Linked DNA regions of Homo sapiens: regions 1, 2, 3 and 4 are each reported to be linked to region 5. The links are microRNA targets in miRTarBase. Many come from high-throughput screens and were not tested one by one. Region 5 holds a microRNA gene; each other region holds the end of a gene's coding sequence.
The links. The annotated mature microRNA hsa-miR-652-3p reads AAUGGCGCCACUAGGGUUGUG and lies in region 5 at 2,473-2,493, shown strand. An mRNA with a match to its seed (bases 2 to 7 or 8) in the 3' UTR can be bound and repressed. Matches are read on the target gene's strand: a 7mer-m8 pairs with bases 2 to 8, a 7mer-A1 pairs with bases 2 to 7 and ends in A, and an 8mer does both.

Region 1: the mRNA of SRPK1 is a reported target of hsa-miR-652-3p. The part of its 3' UTR that is shown has no 7-base or 8-base seed match.
Region 2: miRTarBase lists TCP1 as a target of hsa-miR-652-3p. The part of its 3' UTR that is shown has no 7-base or 8-base seed match.
Region 3: miRTarBase lists MRPL36 as a target of hsa-miR-652-3p. The part of its 3' UTR that is shown has no 7-base or 8-base seed match.
Region 4: miRTarBase lists ISOC1 as a target of hsa-miR-652-3p. The part of its 3' UTR that is shown has no 7-base or 8-base seed match.

The regions. Positions count from the first base shown.
Region 1 is chr6:35,831,909-35,835,908 of GRCh38, forward strand. SRPK1 (SRSF protein kinase 1) reads right to left here. Exons shown (of 16, transcript NM_003137.5): 16 at 1,058-3,580. The coding sequence ends at 3,396. Among named protein-coding and RNA genes, the nearest start is that of LHFPL5, 29 kb to the left of the region's middle.
Region 2 is chr6:159,775,270-159,779,269 of GRCh38, forward strand. It overlaps TCP1 (t-complex 1), which reads right to left. Exons shown (of 12, transcript NM_030752.3): 12 at 3,229-3,992. The coding sequence ends at 3,776. ACAT2 (acetyl-CoA acetyltransferase 2) reads left to right here. Exons shown (of 9, transcript NM_005891.3): 5 at 1-44; 6 at 881-1,003; 7 at 2,033-2,187; 8 at 2,901-3,011; 9 at 3,390-3,843. The coding sequence ends at 3,560. Among named protein-coding and RNA genes, the nearest start is that of SNORA20, 3.1 kb to the right of the region's middle.
Region 3 is chr5:1,794,895-1,798,894 of GRCh38, reverse strand. MRPL36 (mitochondrial ribosomal protein L36) reads left to right here. Exons shown (of 2, transcript NM_032479.4): 2 at 1-510. The coding sequence ends at 271. Among named protein-coding and RNA genes, the nearest start is that of MRPL36, 2.9 kb to the left of the region's middle.
Region 4 is chr5:129,112,318-129,116,317 of GRCh38, forward strand. It overlaps ISOC1 (isochorismatase domain containing 1), which reads left to right. Exons shown (of 5, transcript NM_016048.2): 5 at 538-1,711. The coding sequence ends at 684. Among named protein-coding and RNA genes, the nearest start is that of MIR4633, 17 kb to the left of the region's middle.
Region 5 is chrX:110,052,917-110,057,068 of GRCh38, forward strand. MIR652 (microRNA 652) reads left to right here and starts at 2,413; the gene lies at 2,413-2,510. The region is part of intron 2 of TMEM164 (transmembrane protein 164); the gene reads left to right.

The DNA of each region.
Region 1 (4,000 bases), not on the chromosome of region 5:
TAAAAACTACCACAAATAAAAATGAAAAGTAAATTAAAAACTAGACAAGTGTATGAAGCAAAAAATAAATTATCTCTAGTATATAACGAGTCCTGACCAAGTCATCAAATACGGAAGCACTCCAACAGAAAGCTGGACAATTTACATAAATAATCAAAAAATGCAAATACCTATGAAAAGTTTATGACCTCACCAGTAATCCAATATGCAAATTATAACGATATTCCTGTGGGGAGGGGGCAGGGCACAAACTAGCGATTCATAATAGGCCTGTTCATACATTGGTGTATACAGAAAAACAGTCCAACCATTCTGCTAGTTGTCCAGATAAGTTAGGCAATATTTATTTATTTATTTATTTATTTATTTATTTATTGAGACGGAGTCTTGCTGTTGCCCAGACAGGAGTGCAGTGGCGTGATCTTGGCTCACTGCAACCTCCAAGGTTCAAGTGATTCTCCTGCCTCAGTCTCCCAAGTAGCTGGGACTACAGGTGCACGCCGCCATGCCTGGCTAATTTTTGTATTTTTAGTAGAGACAGTGTTTCACCATATTGGCCAGGATGGTCTCAATCTCTTGACCTCGTGATCCACCTGCCTTGGCCTCCCAAAATGCTGGGATTACAGGCATGAGCCACCGCGCCCGGTGGCAATATTTATTAAAAGCCTCAAAAATGTGCTCTCTGGCCCAGACAGTTCAAGAATCTATCCAAGAAATGAGATAAGTGTATGAAAGCCTGTGTAATACATCATGCCATTGCCTTAATAAGAGCTTATATTTCTAAGTCTTCTGAATTTTGCACGTACCGTGCATTTATAATTTGAGAAAAACAACCACCCCTGACAAATCTTCTGGAAGAAAGTGCTATTGGATGTAGGGAAAAACAATTAAAAAAAAAATGCTGAAAAACAGTATTCCAAAAATGTTAATTTGGCTGTTAATTCTACCCCACTCCCAATTTAAAACTAGAAGCAAAACTATGAACCCCACAAAATGGCAAGTGTGCAATTTGTACACTTTCATTGCATATTTAAATTAAAAAAGCATACTCAACCAATCTTTTCCTCCTTTTACTCAGGGCAGAGCAATTTGGACAACAAATGAACAGAGATTTTTGGAAACATGTAGGTTATTAAATAATTTGTTTATTGTACGGCATTTACAAAGAAAACAGACAATGCCCTCAGTAGAAAGAATAAAAATGTATTTAGGGCTTTATTTTTAACTGACAGCAAATAGAAATCCTTTAGTGAGATCGTGGCAATTTGACAGTATTATAATTAAGCTCAATAAAGGTACATGGGGTACCTGGAAGATCAAGATCTACAGCTGCCTATTTCCACATCTTTCAATCCATCTGGCTCCTTAAATAGGGGAAAAAGCCCTTATTTGGTGGAGAAGCATTTCCAAAATGAAGTTACAGGTTCTATTAAAACTTACTGTCACATCAACTGTTAAAATAGGGCCTTTTGTGTTTTGTTATTTCACCTTAATATCACCAGAATTCCTGTAATTCCACAATTGTGATTTTACTATGTAGAAGATAATTCAGTTCTAGTCTATTGCTTTAGATGTAAAAACAGCTGAAAACCCAAAGTGGATTAGAATTGCTGAAGGATTTCCCTGCCGTTGTTTGATACAATCTATTCTCTTGATTCTTGATAGGTGCATAGAAAGCCTAACTTAAAATTCTTTCTACAGGAACATGTCTGATTTCAGGAGTACCCAATGAAGGATCCGATGAATGGCTGGCCAGTTACTCAGAGTAATATGTTTATGAGTTAAATGGATTGCATAACGGCACCACTTTTCCTTTGTCACTGTGGTGGATAAATGACAAAGTAGATTCCAATCTCCTGTATAGAAAGGTGGTTACCCAATAGCCTCACTGGTGGCTTGCTAGCAGAGCCTCAAGTTGCACCTCTGTGGCTTTCTGTAAATTCGAGTCCTACAGCCACTTCGAGAACGCTGCAATCCCCAAGGCCCACTTGGTCCATGCTGAAGAAGCGGCTGTGACCCCAATCCTGCCTCTCTTTTGCTCTTCAGTATTACTTACTGGAGGAATATGTAATATTCTAGGTCAAGTCTAGGAGAGGCTCATCCTAAAAAAAAAATTGCAAAGTCTTTTCTCAATTAAAACAAAAAAGCCTCAAGTACATCTCAATCATGTCAAAATTATGGTTAAAAATTGACATTATGTAGGGAAATAGCAGCAGAGAATGGCTAATCTTAAAAAATAACGAACCAACCAACCAAAAAACAAAACAAAACAAGACCAACAAAAAAAAGTGCCATCCCACCCCTCCCCTTGGTTCTTTCATTTGGGGTTATATTAAAGACTCGAGCCTCTGAGAAAATCAGAAAGGCAAAGCCATAGAGGAAAACTGCTTCAAGGCCAGAATTTTGGGTAAGGTAAAGAAAAAGCTGTACATGAAAGCAGGGGACTGTTTGGAAAAGAATCAGAATCTCAAGATCTATTTTTCTTAAATGGGAAAGCTCTGAAACCCAGATCTCCGTTCTACCATCATCCTGATCCTTTAGTTATGGGGCAATAAACTCAAGTGCAATGAGTAAAGTGCCAGCCATGGATACAAAAACAAAAAATAAAACAAAACAACCAACCAAAATAACTCTGGTCTTAGGGTAATAGAAGACATACAGGAAAGGACTGTTTATAGAACACCTGAGGTTCTCAAGAAATTACTATTCAATGGTTCTGTTTTTGCTTACATTAAAAATCAGACTGAAGATTCAAAGATCTTAACTATTAAAGGATGAAAGGAATTTGACAGTGCTTTGAACAGTGATAAAATGGTACCCAAATTTGGTGTTCATATAGCTATTTAAAAAAGACAGTAGCTTAAAAGTTGCAGGAAAAAATGTGAACACAGAGAACAACAGAAACAGTCCAGGAAGATGATGCAGCCCGGACACAGCAAGTTTAATGTCTCTGCTGTACATAGAATTAAGACCCTTTCCCCCTCCTCATCCTTATGCTGGCAATAGGATATGCACTAGAAAATTTGACTCTTAGAGTCAATGAATAAAAGGATGGGCTCATACACCTTCATAGCTCTTTTCAAAAAGGATGCTTATAATTTAAAGGATGTCCTAATGGGAAGGAAAGGTACAGGGCAAGAGGCTGTTTCACATTTTAGTCCATTAGTCTTTGGCAGAGCCCAACCAAGGCCAAATTCACCTAGGATGCCCAATGGCTGTGGGGATCTCCACAGGGTCAAGTAAGCAAACCCAAATGAACATGTTGGATTAAAAAAAAAACAAGATCTAGAAACTCTTGAAGGAAGAGCTTCACCCTGAAAAGGGAAGAGGAAAATGCTTGAAGGGGAAGGGCGGAGGGTCAGTGTGTGATCTCTGCTGTGGTGCTGGGCAGGGGCTTAGGAGTTAAGCCAAGGGTGCCGGAGACACTCGGCGGCAGTGGCTCTCTTCTCAGGGATCAGCTCCAACATGGGCAGTAAGAAATCTGTGAAGCCAGCTGCCTCTTCCTGCGACCACTCATACTTCTCCACTAGAACCTCAAAAAGGCCCCAAGGTTTCAGCTTCGTGATATGTTTCAGGTCACCTGCAGTGAAGACAGTACAGAAAAAGCCACTGATCAACACAGACAAATGACAAGGTACTCTTGTGGAAACCCACAAACTAACCCATGTAGTCTATGAGGAATCAAATTTTGCAATCAGAATCTAATCCTTCATTCACAAAGCATTTCTTTTCTGACATATGCCTCAGAAAGAAGTGCCTCTATTCTTCATACGGCTCCAAAAATTTAAGGTAATTTGTTTTCTCCCCTATTCTAGGATTTTTTTGGTCCCAGTCAAACTGGGTGTGACAATCAAGAAGTAGGTATTTACTACTAAAATAAACATGAAATGCCTATGTCTTCAACATGGTCTTATATGGTGTGCAGAGACACTCTAGTACCACATACCGAGAATAATTTGCTTATACTCTTTTTTTGTGTATGTGCTCAATAGTTTAGTAA
Region 2 (4,000 bases), not on the chromosome of region 5:
TTTTGACAAAGAGATTGTACCAGTTTTGGTGTCAACTAGAAAAGGTGAGTATATCATAGTGGTTTAAACATCAACCTATTTATAGGTAAGAGTAACATCTAAAAGAGTAATACATAGGAATCTTTAGAAATTATATCTTAGTTATGTTTTTCAGGTTGCAAATATATGTCCTGGATACATGAATGTGGGGAGGGGGTATGCTGGGTTTACAGGACACGGTAACATGGGACCTATGTCAGCACTCAAGCACTCTTGGTTCCAGAGCGTCCATGACCACTGTGCACACACAGCAGGTTTCATGAGAAGCTGGAGCACTGGCTCATGGTTGTTAGGAGGCACCAGCTGACCTGTTTCCTGTATAGGCTCAACCTCCTCAGAAGTGGACACCCATTACTTCTCGCTGTTTCTGTGTGATCTCCATTTCACATTTCTAAAGGGTGGATCTTTTGGGGTCACTCGCTATTTTCTAATACAGAATGCTCCCGTCAAGCTCCCTTATTGATAACTGATATCTCTTATGTCCTGCCAGCAGTGCACGATTGGCTTTGAGACTGCCTGATCCACTCACTCGTAACCAGCCAAGTACTATGACCCAAACTATAGCAGAATTTGGCACAAACAGGTCCCTGGTAGCTACTTTCCTCAGGAAGGCCTATGGATTTGGAAAACACAGGTGTCTCATAAGGACATACTCATAAATTGTTTTCATGTACAATAATTCTTGTGTGTACTTTCCTCCTGTTGTCATCAAAGTGGTCACATATTAAAACTTTTCTGCTAAATATGAATCCTCATGTTTAATGGCAGAGAACCCACCATTCCCAGCACACTTACTTCTGTCTCTGGACTAATCTTGAGTAATTGGTTTTCCTTTGCTTAGGTCTTATTGAAGTTAAAACAGATGAGTTTCCTCGCCATGGGAGCAACATAGAAGCCATGTCCAAGCTAAAGCCTTACTTTCTTACTGATGGAACGGGAACAGTCACCCCAGCCAATGCTTCAGGTTAGATTTTCTGAAGGACATCTGGGGGAATACTATGTTCTATAATGTCTACCGAGTGAATATTTTTCTCTTTATTTATATACAAAAGTACTATTTTTTGGGACAGGGACTCACTCTGCCAGCCAGGTTCGTGTGCAGCAATATGATCATTGCTCACTTGCAGCCTCAAACTCCTGGGCTCAAGTGAGCCCCCTGCCTTAACCTCCCAAGTAGCTGGGGGACTACAGGCATGAGCCACCACACCCAACTCAATATTTATGTACAAAATTATTCTTAAAACAGTTTAAGGAAACATGTCATTTCTCTGTATTTGATCATTGACTTAACCTATACTGAAAGAATTAATTTGGTTTCTTGACATCCCAACTAGACATACAAATGAAGAAGTAAATTAGGGAACTTCAGTTTATCTACCTTTGTATTTTTCCAGTACCAGAAACTCCCAATACCTCCTTGTGAAGCCCAGGCTTATTCTTCCATTTCCTGTCAGAGATCTCCCCTCCCCAACTGCTGTAATCCTTTTTTTTTCTTTTTGAGACGGAGCCTCACTCTGTCGCCCAGGCTGGAGTGCAGTGGTGCAATCTTGGCTCACTGCAATCTCCGCCTCCCAGGTTCAAGCAATTCTCCTGTCTCAGCCTCCTGAGTGGCTGGGACTACAGGCGCACACCACCACACCGGCTGATTTTTCTATTTTAAGTAGAGATGGCTTTCACCCTATTGGTCAGGCTGGTCTCAAACTCCTGACCTCAGGTGATTCACCCTCCTCCACCTCCCAAAGTGCTGGGATTACAGGCGTGAGCCACCACGCCCAGCCCCGACTACTGTAATCCTACCACTTTCTCTAGTTGGAAAGTTTTGTGGTCAATATATTGCCAAACATAATTTCTATGTAAAGTCTGTTGAATTATAGTAAATGCCTTAGCCAACAGGTAAAATCATTTAACTCATGTCTTCAGGTGGTAAAGAAGCCACAGATATGTAACTGAGGTTAATAAGCATGGTAGAAATTAAGTCACTCATATTTTACAGGAATAAATGATGGTGCTGCAGCTGTCGTTCTTATGAAGAAGTCAGAAGCTGATAAACGTGGGCTTACACCTTTAGCACGGATAGTTTCCTGGTCCCAAGTGGGTGTGGAGCCTTCCATTATGGGAATAGGACCAATTCCAGCCATAAAGCAAGCTGTGAGTATAACCCTATTCCCTTTTATGAAATTTGTCTTCCTGTTAGCCTTAAGTGAGCTTATTCATGTAGTTAGCTCTAGTCTTTCCCTACCAGAAGAGTAACCAAGAGCATTTATTTCTATTTTTGAGATAAGGTCTTGCTCTGTTGTCCAGGCTGGAGTGCAGTGGCACCATCATAGCTCACTGCAGCCTCAAAACTCCTAGGCTCAAATATTCCTCCTGCCTTAGCCTCCCATTACCTCGAACTACAGGTGCACCACGCCTTCTTCATTTCGTAGAGACAAGGTCTATGTCGCCCAGGCTGGTTTTGAACTCCTGAGTTCAATTGATCCTCTTGCCTTAGGCTCCCCAAGTGTTGAGATTTCAGGTGTGAGCCACTACCCCCAGCCACTGAGAGCATTTGGATCACATGCTTTCTAGGGGAACTGATTCTGTTACATTAGCCTTAGGTACACATAACAGATGCTACTGGTTCAAAATTTTAAGACAATTTAGAATTTCTAAGGGATCTTTTAGATCACACCCTTAACCTTTTGGATGGAATGGATGTCACTAAGGCAAAAATGTGTGAGAATGTCACTGTATTAACCTAAGAACAAACCAAAGTAGCAGTTACCAGTATCATGCAGCATATATTTATGTTGACAAAGAATGGTTTAACTTTAGCCTTTCCACCCAAGTTTAGACCTCTTTTCTATGAATCTTTCCTCTAGGTTACAAAAGCAGGTTGGTCACTGGAAGATGTTGACATATTTGAAATCAATGAAGCCTTTGCAGCTGTCTCTGCTGCAATAGTTAAAGAACTTGGATTAAACCCAGAGAAGGTAAAGATGCACAAGTAACCCTGAGAGCTTACCAGTGAATTTCACAATCCAATTTTAAGATAGTATCTTCTAGGTGTTGGCCATGTGGGTAATAGTTAAAGAAATACTAGTTACTAGGACTGAGTTCATTACTTCCCAAGGTTTAAAAAAAAAAAAAAAAAAAAAAAAAGACATTGGCTTACTTGGCATAAAAGGAACGAGGTAAGATAGGCAGGGATGAATTTTCACAAAGGTGTAAATTTATTCCTAAGCAGTTAAAATGAAAATTTGAGTTTGAAAGGGTAGCATGCTGATACATTAAGAGGAAAAAGACAAGTTTAAGATTTTAAACTGTGTCCACAGAAGAATAAACAATCTAAATCTTTTCTCCCCCGTTAGGTCAATATTGAAGGAGGGGCTATAGCCTTGGGCCACCCTCTTGGAGCATCTGGCTGTCGAATTCTTGTGACCCTGTTACACACACTGGAGAGAATGGGCAGAAGTCGTGGTGTTGCAGCCCTGTGCATTGGGGGTGGGATGGGAATAGCAATGTGTGTTCAGAGAGAATGAATTGCTTAAACTTTGAACAACCTCAATTTCTTTTTAAACTAATAAAGTACTAGGTTGCAATATGTGAAATCAGAGGACCAAAGTACAGATGGAAACCATTTCCTACATCACAAAAACCCAAGTTTACAGCTTGTACTTTACTTTAATGTGTAATACTCAACTCAAGGTACAAGACAATTGCATTTAACATTGTTATAAATAAAAGGAACATCAGATCAATCATTAAGGGCTCCAGAGTGAACAGCATCTTCATAACTTCCATGTTTATCATCTTTACTTTCTGGATGTAATTTAATAAGATCATCAATTCGAAGAATGGTGATTGCAGCTTCTGTTGCAAATTTCAAACTCTTAACTTTAACTATGGTTGGTTCAAACACCCCTGCTTGTTTGTTGTCTCGAGGTTTACCATTGCTCAAATCAAGACCAATCCTGCAATT
Region 3 (4,000 bases), not on the chromosome of region 5:
CTATCTCAGTCGTCACACGGTGAAGCCTCGAGCCCTCTCCACATTTCTATTTGGATCCATTCGAGGTGCAGCCCCCGTGGCTGTGGAACCCGGGGCAGCAGTGCGCTCACTTCTCTCACCCGGCCTCCTGCCCCATCTGCTGCCTGCGCTGGGGTTCAAAAACAAGACTGTCCTTAAGAAGCGCTGCAAGGACTGTTACCTGGTGAAGAGGCGGGGTCGGTGGTACGTCTACTGTAAAACCCATCCGAGGCACAAGCAGAGACAGATGTAGACCCTTTCCCTCCAGAGTCACGCACATACTCGTCATCGCATCACTTGGGAGAATGGTTGTATCTTATGGAAGGAATTATCACATCAAGGAGTCAGGGGAAAGTGACTGGAAGCAAACGCCCTAAAAGTTACCCATCACGTTTCAGTGTAAATGAGTAACTATAGAAGACATTGCGTTATCTTATTTCCAAAACGTTCCAACTAAAAAACATTTTCCTATTAAAATAGACCTTCCGAATAGCTTAGTTCATTCATTCTCTCTGAACTCAGGCTGCAGGTAGGGATTGGATGGTGCTGGGTGAGGCTGGGCAGGACTTCTCTATGTCTCCGTGAGGCTGCTTAGAGCCTCTTGGAAGAAGTGGTGTTTTGGTCACCCGTCGCTGTACAAGCCAAGGCTTGGTGGCTTAAATCAGCCATTTTACATTGTTCACGATTTTGTGAGGCATTTGGGATGGGCTCAGCTGAGCAGTTTGTCTGATCTGTGTGGCATTAACTGCAGGACCCACTTCCAAGATGGCACCGGCTCTCCTGTCTGGGGTCTCAGTGCTCCTCAGGCTGTACGTAGCACCTCCTCAGGCAGGGCCCACAGCGTGGCTTGCACTGCCCCACAGTGAGCTTCCCGAGAGTGTCCCGAGAGACCCAAGCAGATGCTACGAGGCTTCCTATGACCCAGCCTCAGAAATTCCAGCGTGTCATTTCTACCGCACTCTTTCAGTCCCTAGGGTGAGCCCAGATTCAGGGGGAGGCAAGGAGCTCCCCTTGCTAGAGGATGACCACACCTACAACTGGTAAGGACTTGGAGGGATGGAGTGGGCTGGTCCTTCCCTGGTCATCGGGATTCATAGTTGAGTGAGCCCCATGCCTTGGGGGAGCACTGTCATCAACATGAATTTGGGGGTGGGGAGCACAGTCCAACCCAGAGCAGATGCTGAGATGCGACAGCCTTCTCACGGCTCCTTTCCTCCTGGCCAGGGACACCTCCCCTTCTCCCAGAAAGGAGTTTTGTGAGACAGGAGACCACGCAAGAAGCCTAGCGCGGGGGGAGCGCCCTCCTGCCCAGATCAGCAGCAGGGGCGCAGCAGGGTCACCCAGAAAGGCCTGGTGGGGCGGCAGAGGGGGCAGCATGGCCACATGAGGGCCAAAGCTCCTCCCCAGCACCCACATCACTTCTCCAGGGGGAGCAGACGCCGGTGTGTGTTGCTGTGAACTCTGTGCTGTGCCCATTCACCCTCACAAAGGGCCTCTGCAAGCAGCTTGACATGGGCATTGCAGCCCGCAGGCGTCTGGCCAGTTGAAGAAGGTGGAGAGCGTTATTACCTGAAAGAAAAGGGAACCAGCTCTGCGAAGAGCCTGCTTCTGTTGTGCAGTGAAAGGGAAGCCCTCTCTCGAGCCGTTCTTAAGTGAGGAGTTGATGCACTAGAGTGTCTGTCACGGGGGCCCCTGAAAGTGTCAGAAGCCAGACCCCACTAGGAGACCTGTTATGCACTGGGGCTGAGAATAGTTCAGCAAGAGAGAGGACTTTCCTCAAGCGTGTGTGTGTGCGTGCATGTGTGTATATGGCACGTGTGTGTGCATGCATGAGTGTGTCCACATATATACGCGTGTGTCTGCATACACTACCTGAACAGGCAGTGTGGGAGGGTGTGATGGGTCAGTGGCACCGCTGTAGTGACCCTCAGCAGACTGCAACCTTCAGCCAGCGTGTGCTGTCCATGTCTCTGATCTCTCACGGGGTGGGTGATGTGGTTTTGAGAACCACAGGGTCCTGACAGCCCCCAGCATGGCTTGCTGATGCTTCCCGAGCACCCTTAGCCTGGGCCCTGGGGTGAGGAGGAGAAGAGGTGCTGCTGCCCTCACACCCTTACTGCGTAGGAGCGTGTGAAACAGGCTGGTGAGTGCTGTGTGTGAAGCATGCCAGGCCCTCCAAGGCAAGAGGTCAAGGATGCTCCCTGCAGGGGATGACGGCCAAGCTGAAACTTTGGTTGCAGGGGAGGCAACCCGAGGAGGGGCCTGAGGCTGGGCACGGGCAGGGGGCATCCAAGCCATCCTGCGTGGATGAAAACTGGGTGTGTTTCTGCAGTACGCAGTGCTCTGGGGGGAGACCTGACCACCGGCTGCATGCCTGCAGTTGGGTGTGATGTGCTTACGTGCCATGCAAACGTGGGCACACAGTCGTGGCCTCTTGACAATTGCACAGACAAATCCCCAGCAAGGCAGCGTGGCACAGGAGCCAACAGGAAGGAATAAAGAAGGCATGGATTTCATGGCACGCTTGATCCAACGGGGAAAGGTGGGATTCTGCTAATTTTGCTTGAGTAGAAATCTAAGGCTGATAATTACCTATCCAGGCTTCAGTCCAGAATAAGTGATTAATAAAAGAATTCTGCAGAACCAGGCCAGGAATCCTGGGCATCGGCACTGTGGACATCTGGGGCTGGGTTGTGCTCCGGGCCCATCCTGGGCACTGCCGGGTGTTCAGCATCCCTGGGCTCCACCACAAGATGTCGGGAGCACCCCACACACAAGCAGGGCCAACCAAAAGTGCCCCAGACACTGTCAAGCACTCCCTGGGGGGCAACACGTTTCCCCATCAATGAACCAGGGTTGCTGCCGCCTGCCATGACGAGGGCTGGGATGCAGGTGCACCACTGGGAGGTGATCTCGGAAGTCAGGATGGGGAGTGGGGATGTGAGTCAGGGAGGGAGAGGAGCTTCCAGGGCACAGAACCAGAGCGACACCGGGTGCCACCTTGTTGTGTCCCCTGAGCTCTGGCGGAATGGACCTTGGTGTCCTGTAGGGGATGAGGACTGGGGGGGGGGGGGCGTTTATCCACAGATGCTCGTCACTGGTGGTTGAGGGTGACCGTGTGGGGACTTAAATCCCAGGCACTTCCAAGCCACCCAAAGGTGGGCTGAGCAGGTCCTCATGGGCACAGAGAAAGGCGACTGCAGAGAGAGGAGGAGTGGGCACGTGGGCCGGCAGGGTCATCCTGTCAGGAGCTGTCCCTGCACTCGCGAGACCTACGGGTGGCCTGGGGCCCTGCCAGATGCCAGCCCTGTCTTGCCAATGTCCTCCCTGTCTCCTGAAGGTGTGGTGCCAATGAACTGAAAGACGGATTGAAAATACTGTGAGAAGTTAGAAGTGCTATTCAGGTGTACGTTATTAGGTTATTCTCTGAGGGACTTTTAAAGTAAGATCAACTGGGGACAGCAGTGCAAGTGAAGGAAGAGTAAATGATGCCCAGATGGAGAGAAGAACATAGGAGCTGTCTATGCATTTCCAGAAGGAGGCGAGGTGCTCTGTGGGACGCTGTCATGTTTGTATCCACCTAGGAGGCTACTCACGGACCAGGTCTAACTGATGGACCACCCACCTGGCAGCGTCGCTGTCACTCACCCAGGAGAGTGGGAGGCGAGACCGGCACTCCCAGGGTCCAGGTCTCCTTCCTGTGCCGGACCGGTGGGGGCTGGGGCTTCCCTGCCTCCCTGCGAGTGGGCATGGCTGTGAGACCTGCTGTGGCCTATGAGGCTGGCTGAGGGTCACCAGCAGGGTCTCCGAGCAGAGGTGATGTGCTGCTTTGTGGCGGAAGCACTCCACGCGGTGCATTCGTTCTTCCCCCAGCGATGGTGGAAGTGATCGGGAGGTGGAAGAGCCGGTGGAAGAGTGTTGATCCTGTCCATTCCTCAGTGTCCAGCCTCCGGCAAGAAGCTTCCATGGAAGCCTCGTGTTT
Region 4 (4,000 bases), not on the chromosome of region 5:
AAACTACAGAGGGGGAAAAGTGGACAGAGGCACCTTTTAAAAAATCTCAGTAGTAGAAATAGAAATAAAAGTTTAATAAATTTAGAAGTCACAAGCAGCCCTCATTTGAGTCAATGAATGAGTAAGACATGAAGCACAAACCTGCCAGGAGTGTTCAGGAAATAGCAGCAACTAAATGTCCAGATGTTCAGTGATGGGCACGTAGTAACAACCATTCCTTTTCTCTCTCTCATCTCATGTTTTACAGTCATTTGCCTTGATGACTTTCCTGTTCTGGGCACATATATGTCATAACTTTGGCTACCTGTTCCCTTTTACTCGTTCTACTCCATTTTACTAATATTAAGAATAATCATATTGACTTTGTGGTATGCCTGGTCTTGAAATCCATCCCCATCACTGAACTTGATGGTATGGCTGGGAACCACGGTTTCAGTAGAGGACACTAATTATTGCATCCCAGCATAGTGTTACTCTTCTGAAATAGTGTTCATTCTCATGCTTATTTCTTGATTTGCCTTTATCTTTTTGTTCAAGCGTCTCGCTCGAACCGGGATCATAGTGACCACGAGTGAGGCTGTTCTGCTTCAGCTGGTAGCTGATAAGGACCATCCAAAATTCAAGGAAATTCAGAATCTAATTAAGGCGAGTGCTCCAGAGTCGGGTCTGCTTTCCAAAGTATAGGACATTTGAAGAACTGGTATGCTACTCACTGGTGAAGGACAGTCAGGTGAAGGACTGTAAGCCCACACAAGCTCTTCTTATCTCTACTAGAATTAAAATGTTAAGTCAAAAACGGCTCCTTTTTTGCGCCTCCTAGTGAAACTTAACCAGCTAGACCATTTGAGTACCAGCATTTAGTTACAAACGTCAAAGGCTTCCGGTGCTGCTTACCTTCCTTTTTTGTTAATGTGCTTTTATTTATTAAAAAAAATTACAATGAAGATGCCTGTTTTGTCTCTACTGTGTACTCTGATCGTATCTTTCCAAAGTGCAGACTCTTGTGAAGTTTTCTTAAATTGTTCACTTTAAAGAAAATGACGTACCAACAATGATTTGGCTTTTATATTACTGTAAGATGTTATAATGTTAATGTGGATGTAGTGCTTTTACTTTACAGATTGATTGGAATAAGATTATTGCATATGAATTTACCCACAGGACTCTGAATCATGTTACCCACTCCCCTCACAATGTTGTCCACTTAGTGAGTTGCATTGATCTATCCGTACCAAATGATGTTGAATAATTACATATCTTTCTTGACTATACTGATTTCTTATTTTGGTCACTATTACTAAATCTCTGTTAATATTCTCTCTTTTAACTGAAAAGGGATGGGATAGAAGGGTTTGCAATGCCATATTATTGGTGGAGGGCTGTTTTAACATCTTTGAAGTATGGCTTGCTGAATATCTTTACCAACATCTTGAATATATATTCTAGTGTCCACAAGATTTAGCAAAAAGATAAAGCTTGGGTGGAATATCATTTTAAAATGTTCATGTTCTGTTCTATATTTTCTTCACCTACTCTCCAAATATTGTAATGCAAAAAGTCTCAGTAATGATTTGGTAGTATTAATTTTGTGGTCATTGTTTCTCTTCGATAAATTTATTTTCATTAAATACTTGTTAGAGGGTTTTGAAATGTTTTTCAAATATGTGAAATGTGAAACTGCTGTCTTTTATATTAAAGTAATTAAAGAAAATGTATTGTGATTGAAATTATTTTGTCCTCCACAAGATGGCTCTATGAGTATTCTTCCAGGGATTCTAATATTTATTTAAGGTAATAAAATCTTGACATTTATAATCTTTCAACTCATGGGAGTTTTCAAAGAAGGAAAATCCTTTGTACGTAGGGGCAGATGGATTTTACTAAAGGGTGAAAGGCCTTCTTCATTAAGAGCAGATTTTTTTTATTTTTCCTATTGGCAGTGGTAACAAATAGCAACCTGGTGTGTTTAAATACTTTTTTCCAACCATTTGTGTGTCAAAAAAGAAGAATCAAAGATTTCTGCACCTTTAAAAAGTTTTTATTAAATTTAACCTAGTGCTTCTCAAACTTTAATATGAATGCAAATTATTTGAGGATCTTGTTAAAATGCTGATGCTGACTCAGTAGGTCTGTTGTGCAGCCTGAGGTGACATTTTGCATTTCCAAGGTGACATTTCGCATTTCCAAAAATTGGGCATTTTCCACCAGTGCTGTTCAGAAAGGACCATATTTGAAATAGCGAGAATTTAACTCCAGACAACTGTTTTCCTCCACTGCACCCAAACCTTTCAGGGCTCAGTGAAATACCAGTACAGTGAAGCCTTTTCACAGGTGAAACTAATTCTGTGACGTCAGCTTCGTTTCCCCTGCCTTCCATAACAAACTATTATACCACAAACAGTGTCGTAAAACAACGGCACAAGTGTATTCTCGCAGTTCTGTAGGTTAGAATTCTGAAATGAGTCTTAGTGGGCTAAGATCAAGGTATCAGCAGGGCCGTGTTCTTTTCCGGAGGCTGTACGGAAGAAACTGTTTCCTTGCTGCTCTGTGCTTCTAGCATTCACCCATGTTTTTTTTTTGTTTTTTTTTTTTTTGGTTTTTTTTTTGGCTTTTTTGACCCCATTTCTACCTCTTCTAAGCCAATGAAGGTGTATCTGTTTTTTCTTATGTCACATCTGTCTGACTCACTCTTCTGTCTTTCTCATTCTGACTTAAGAGCTCATGTGCTTTAAGGTCATCTGATCAGAACCTTATTCCATCTGCAACCTAAGTTTTCTTTTGCTGTGTAACAACATATTCACAGGTTCCAGGGTTTACAACATTAACATCTCTGGTGGCCACTCTGTATAACACAGACACCGCCATGTGATTTAGTATTTTATTTCATTTTGTCATTTGTCATATTTCCATCTTTCCTGCTATATTATAAGCTCTCTGGAAGCAGAGACCGTGAATTATATATAGTCATTCTGGAAACATTTTGAAAACCCACTAAGTTCTAAACATTGTGCTTTGTGCTTAGGATAAAAAGATGCCCCTAGGAAACTTATGCTATGGCACAAAATCAGATACAATTCTCAGTAAATGTGAATTGAATTAAATTATATCAGAGGTCCAGGAATGTCAATATAATACTAAAGTTCAGAATAACTGTGAATTCTGCCTTCTCTCTTTTTTTGTACATCATGCCAAGCAGGTCACTGACAAGGCTTTATTATTACAAGAAAACCAAATTGATTATAATACATTATGCCTTAAAATTGGAAGCATCTGTAACTTTGTAGGATAATGAAATTCTTTCAACTGATGTAAATAGAGAACTTGACTACATAAGCAAAAGAGTAGTCATTGTGTTGAATTGCAAGGGTATGGGAGCAGGAGCAAGAGGATTCACTTATTGAAATGCTAAAACATCTGTAGAAACTTATTCTAAAATTAAAAGTGATAACTTATTCCAATCAGGAAACAAAATATCCTGTTACATCCGTTAAAGTAATACATTTCTCAACGTGGAATATATTCCCTCTCTAAAAGTTGATGTTTGTGTAAATATGACTTTAGAACTGGGTGGAACTATAAAGATCATGATCTCAAAGGTCCATTTCAGCTCCCAAATTCTAAAATGGTTTTATTTTACAGACACAGTTAGTGAGGCCCAGAAATAAATGACTTTTCCAAAGTTGCACAGCAGGATGAGAACTGAGGTTACTTAATTCCCTGTCCTGTTCTTTCTTACATTAAGTGATAATGCTAAGGATTATCAAAGAGAGAGGAACAATAAATATATACAAAAGAGTATGCATTTTATAATTTCTGTAACAATAATTTTGATTGGCAAAGCTAATGGGATATACTCTTGCTACTAATTAATAACTTTCCCTGGCTGTAACCTTAAATCTAGTCTTATTTCTTCCTTGATGATTTTCTCTAAAGCACATTTCCTAACTAATTTGGGGAAATGGCTAAAATATATGAAAATTAGTCATTTTCATTATTAATT
Region 5 (4,152 bases):
ATTTTTTTGTATTTTTAGTAGAGACGGGGTTTCACCATGTTGGCCAGGATGGTCTTGATCTTTTCACCTCATGATCTGCCCACCTTGGCCTCCCAAAGTGCTGGGATTACAGGCGTGAGCCACCATGCCTGGCCTACATGCATCATTTTTTAAAACAGTGATTAATGGAGTCCCCTTTCCCAATTTTTTAATACAAAGGTGTGGATGGGAGATTTGCAGCAAAGATAGGAAAGCAAAGATATAACCCACAATCTTTACTCTTGCCAACAGCTCTTACCTTCTTTCCCACCAAAATTTTCCTTTGATAAAATGTCTTGCTGAGAGTTAGGCTAACTCACCAACCAGCTTTAATTTTGGTTGACAGGGTGCCGTAGAAGACCTTTGCTAGCCAGACTGTGAGCTTCTTGCAGACAGGAATTATGTCCTGCATCACTGTGTGCTCAGAACCTCAGGAAGAACAAACTGATGTAGGCACCAGGAAATAGGTGCTTTTATTACATTCTCATTTTATGCCTTAGAAGCACTGCAAATGGTAGGTATTCTTATTTCTGTTTTAAACAATGAGAAAACTGAGGCTTAAGGAGGTGTAAAAAATACTTTCTTTTAAAAAAAATACACCTCTCCCCCACCATCATAAAAACCCCAACTTTGGCCATAGAGTTCATTGGTGGTGGAGCACTGCAAACATTAGCTGTCCCATGTGGCTTTGACTCTGACACAATTGGTCCTCTTGCTTCAGGGAACTGGATACCATCCATCCCTCCCATGGGTTGGCCTAGGCTCTGTTACTTCAGAGTTTTCTTGACGAGTTTCAAGGTAACCAGGTCATCCTGTTCTACATATTTTTCTGGGATTGAGGTCAAGGAGCAGCATGATCCTCTCTTAAATGGGTCAGAGGAGGAGGACTCCTGTGGCTCCCTGAAAGGTCAAGCCCCTTCATGCTAACTACACCGTCTTCCCTTCTCTTCCAGCTTATGTCCTGGGCTGGGCTCTGGACAGGGAGCAGAGGCAGATGTGCGCATGTGTTCTGGAGGACTTTTATATGTCCGATGGTGTGTTAGGCACTATGTGGAGTGGAGGCAGAGGGAACTCCAGAAAAGATAAATTATCTTATGGTGGAGACAAAAGGTAGTATTGGCAACAAACATGACCTCTGGAATCAGATAGTTTTGGGTTCCAGGCCTGACTCTTTGACTCACTTATTAGTTGTGCGACCTTAGGCAATTTATTTAACCTTTCTGTAGCTCAGTTTCCTTGTATGCAAACAGGAGGAAAATAATAATCTCTTACATAATAGGATTGCTATGAAGAATATATGAACTAATATGTGTAAGACATTGACTGTAGTGCCAGGCACCTAGTAAGCACTCAGTAAGGAATAACTACTGCCATTATTGTTGTTACTAACAACAGTATGAGACTAATAAGTGATTAGTGTATAAGTACCAACAAATACCAATGGAGTTCAGAAAAAGAATGCTTAATTTTTGTGACTTATCCAGGAAATCTCTAGAGGAGACAGAAGAAGTGGAATGAAATATTCCAGGTGGAGCAAATATGAAAGTGGGAGGCTGAACTGAACTGGAGTGGGGAACAAAAAGAAGAAACAAACGCAACATCTGGCACCCTTGAGCTCTACCACCAGCTCACCTGTTGTCACTACCAATATGTCCAGTCCTTTATGGCTCTCCATTTTGGAGTGCCCTGAATTACTGGCTGCAGTTTTGACTTGGCCAGCTAGTTGGCCAGCTGCTCTGACTGAGCTTGAGGGTGTCTGTGCCTTGGTGGAGTTGACACGGGTCCTAACTCTGCAACTTGGTTTGTAGGTTCAAAGCCTAATTTTTATCAGCTTACCCAGGGCTGTTGGTTTCTAGTGGATTGGGTCACACTCCCCAACATTACAAAACACTTCTTAATAAATCACCAGGCTGATAAGTCGATTGATGATGAGAGAGAGACCTTTATAGAGATGAGAACACTTGTGTGTATCAGCCCTTTCTGATATCAAGGTACCTGAAGCCAAATTAAACAGGGACTGTTTTATAACCTAAAATCAGAACCTAATGGAGTTGAAAAGTCTCATGAGCGAGACCATATAGGCTTTGGTAGTCCATGGAAAACTGTACCTTTTTGCATGTCTGTCATAGCTTTGTAGTGTGACCAGAATGTGTGTCCTGTTCTCTCTCCACTGCTGGAGAAACATCAGTAACAATTTTTCTCTTGGATGTTCCTGTTTTCAATTCCATGCAAATGCTGTTTGTGTGCTATGGCCATGCTATTCTCTTGAATTTCTTTTTTCTTGACAAGATTTTTGAGTTGCCTACTTCTCAGCGACAACATAGTGATTCTCTCATTGAGTGTTCTTTTTGGCTTTGTTCTCAAACACTAGGAATGTTTCCAAGCAGGGCCGCCACGAATGGCTATGCACTGCACAACCCTAGGAGAGGGTGCCATTCACATAGACTATAATTGAATGGCGCCACTAGGGTTGTGCAGTGCACAACCTACACAACTGTACTCGGCGGCCCTGGCATAATGTAATGTCAGTACTTTCTTCATCAAGGTACCAGTTTGGGATTGTCCTCAGGGTAAGGGGGCTGAAGCAGTGAGCTGCTGCTGTGACCAGGAAAGGAAGAAAGAAGTAAAGTTGTGGCTTTGGGAGAATTATCTTCTCTGTAAATGAGAGCCATCATATAGGAGAACTACGTACCTTCGTTCTTTCAGTAAATAGTTTTTTAAGTGCCTACTATGTGAGGGTTGAAGAACAGGGAGGGGTTTGCATAGGAGGGAGCATTTGAACTGGGCTTTGTGAAAGAAGTAGAATATTAACATGTGAAGATGAGTCAGGAGGAGAGAATCTCAGGGGGAAGGAATAGCGAGAAGAAAGACAGATGGGAGACCACAAGGGATATATGGGTAATGGTGCATAATTCATCTTGGTTGGATAGAAAAGCATGTAAAAGGGAGTAGTGAGCAATGATGCTGGTCGGGGGTCAAATGATGATGCAGGAGGGGAGGGAGTTGAATGCCCAATTAAGGAATTTGGACTTTTATTTATCAAGCAATAAGGAGCTATCCAAAGTTTGTTTTTTAAACAGCTTTATTGGGTTATAATCATATACCATATAATTCATTCATTTAAAGTGTACAATTGAATGTTTTTAGTATATTCACATATATGTGCAACCACCACCACAGTCAAATTTAGAACATTTTCATCATCCAAAAAATAACTCCATACGATTTAGCTCACCCCCCTCCCTACCTTTCCCCCACTCACCAGCCCTAAGCAATTGTTAATCTACTTTCTGTTTCTATAGATTTTATCTATTCTGGACATTTCATAGAAATTGAGTAATTATAATATGTGACCTTTTTCCACTGGCTTCTTTCACTTAGTATGTTTTCGAGATTCATCTGTGTTTAGCATGTATCAGTACTTCACTTATTTTTATGGCCAATTAATATTCCATTTTAAGGATATGCCACATTTTATGTATCCATTTGTCTGTTGGTGAGCATTTGGGTTGTTTCTGCCTTTTGGCTATTACAGATAATACTTCTGTGAACATCTGTAAGTTTTCAGGTGCACATAGGTTTTTATTTCCCTTGGACATAGGTTTTCATTTCCCCCAGGTATAGGAGTGGAATTGCTGAGTCATATGATAACTCTATGTTTAACCTCTCAAGGAGCTGCCAGACTGTTTCTCTAAAATGGCAGCATCATTTTACATCCCTACCGACAGTATAAAAGGGTTCCAATTTCTCCACATCCTCATGCACACTTGTGTTTGCCTTTTATATTTTGGCCATGCTAGTGGGTATGAAGTGTCATCTCATTGTGGATTTGATTTGCATTTCCCTGATGACTAATGATGTTGAACATCTTTTCATGTGCATGTTGAGTACCCGTGTGTTTTCTTTGGAGAGATGTCTGTTCAAGGTTATTTATCTTTTTATTGTTGAGTTTTTTTAATACTTTAGCTATTTTTAATGTATATATTTAAGGTTTTCAACTTAATGATTATATATATATATGGAAATCACCACAATCAAGATAACACATGCATTACATCATAGAGTTATCATTTATGTGTGTATGCGTGTGTGTGTGTGTTGGAAATACTTAGGATCTATTCTTATAGCAAATTT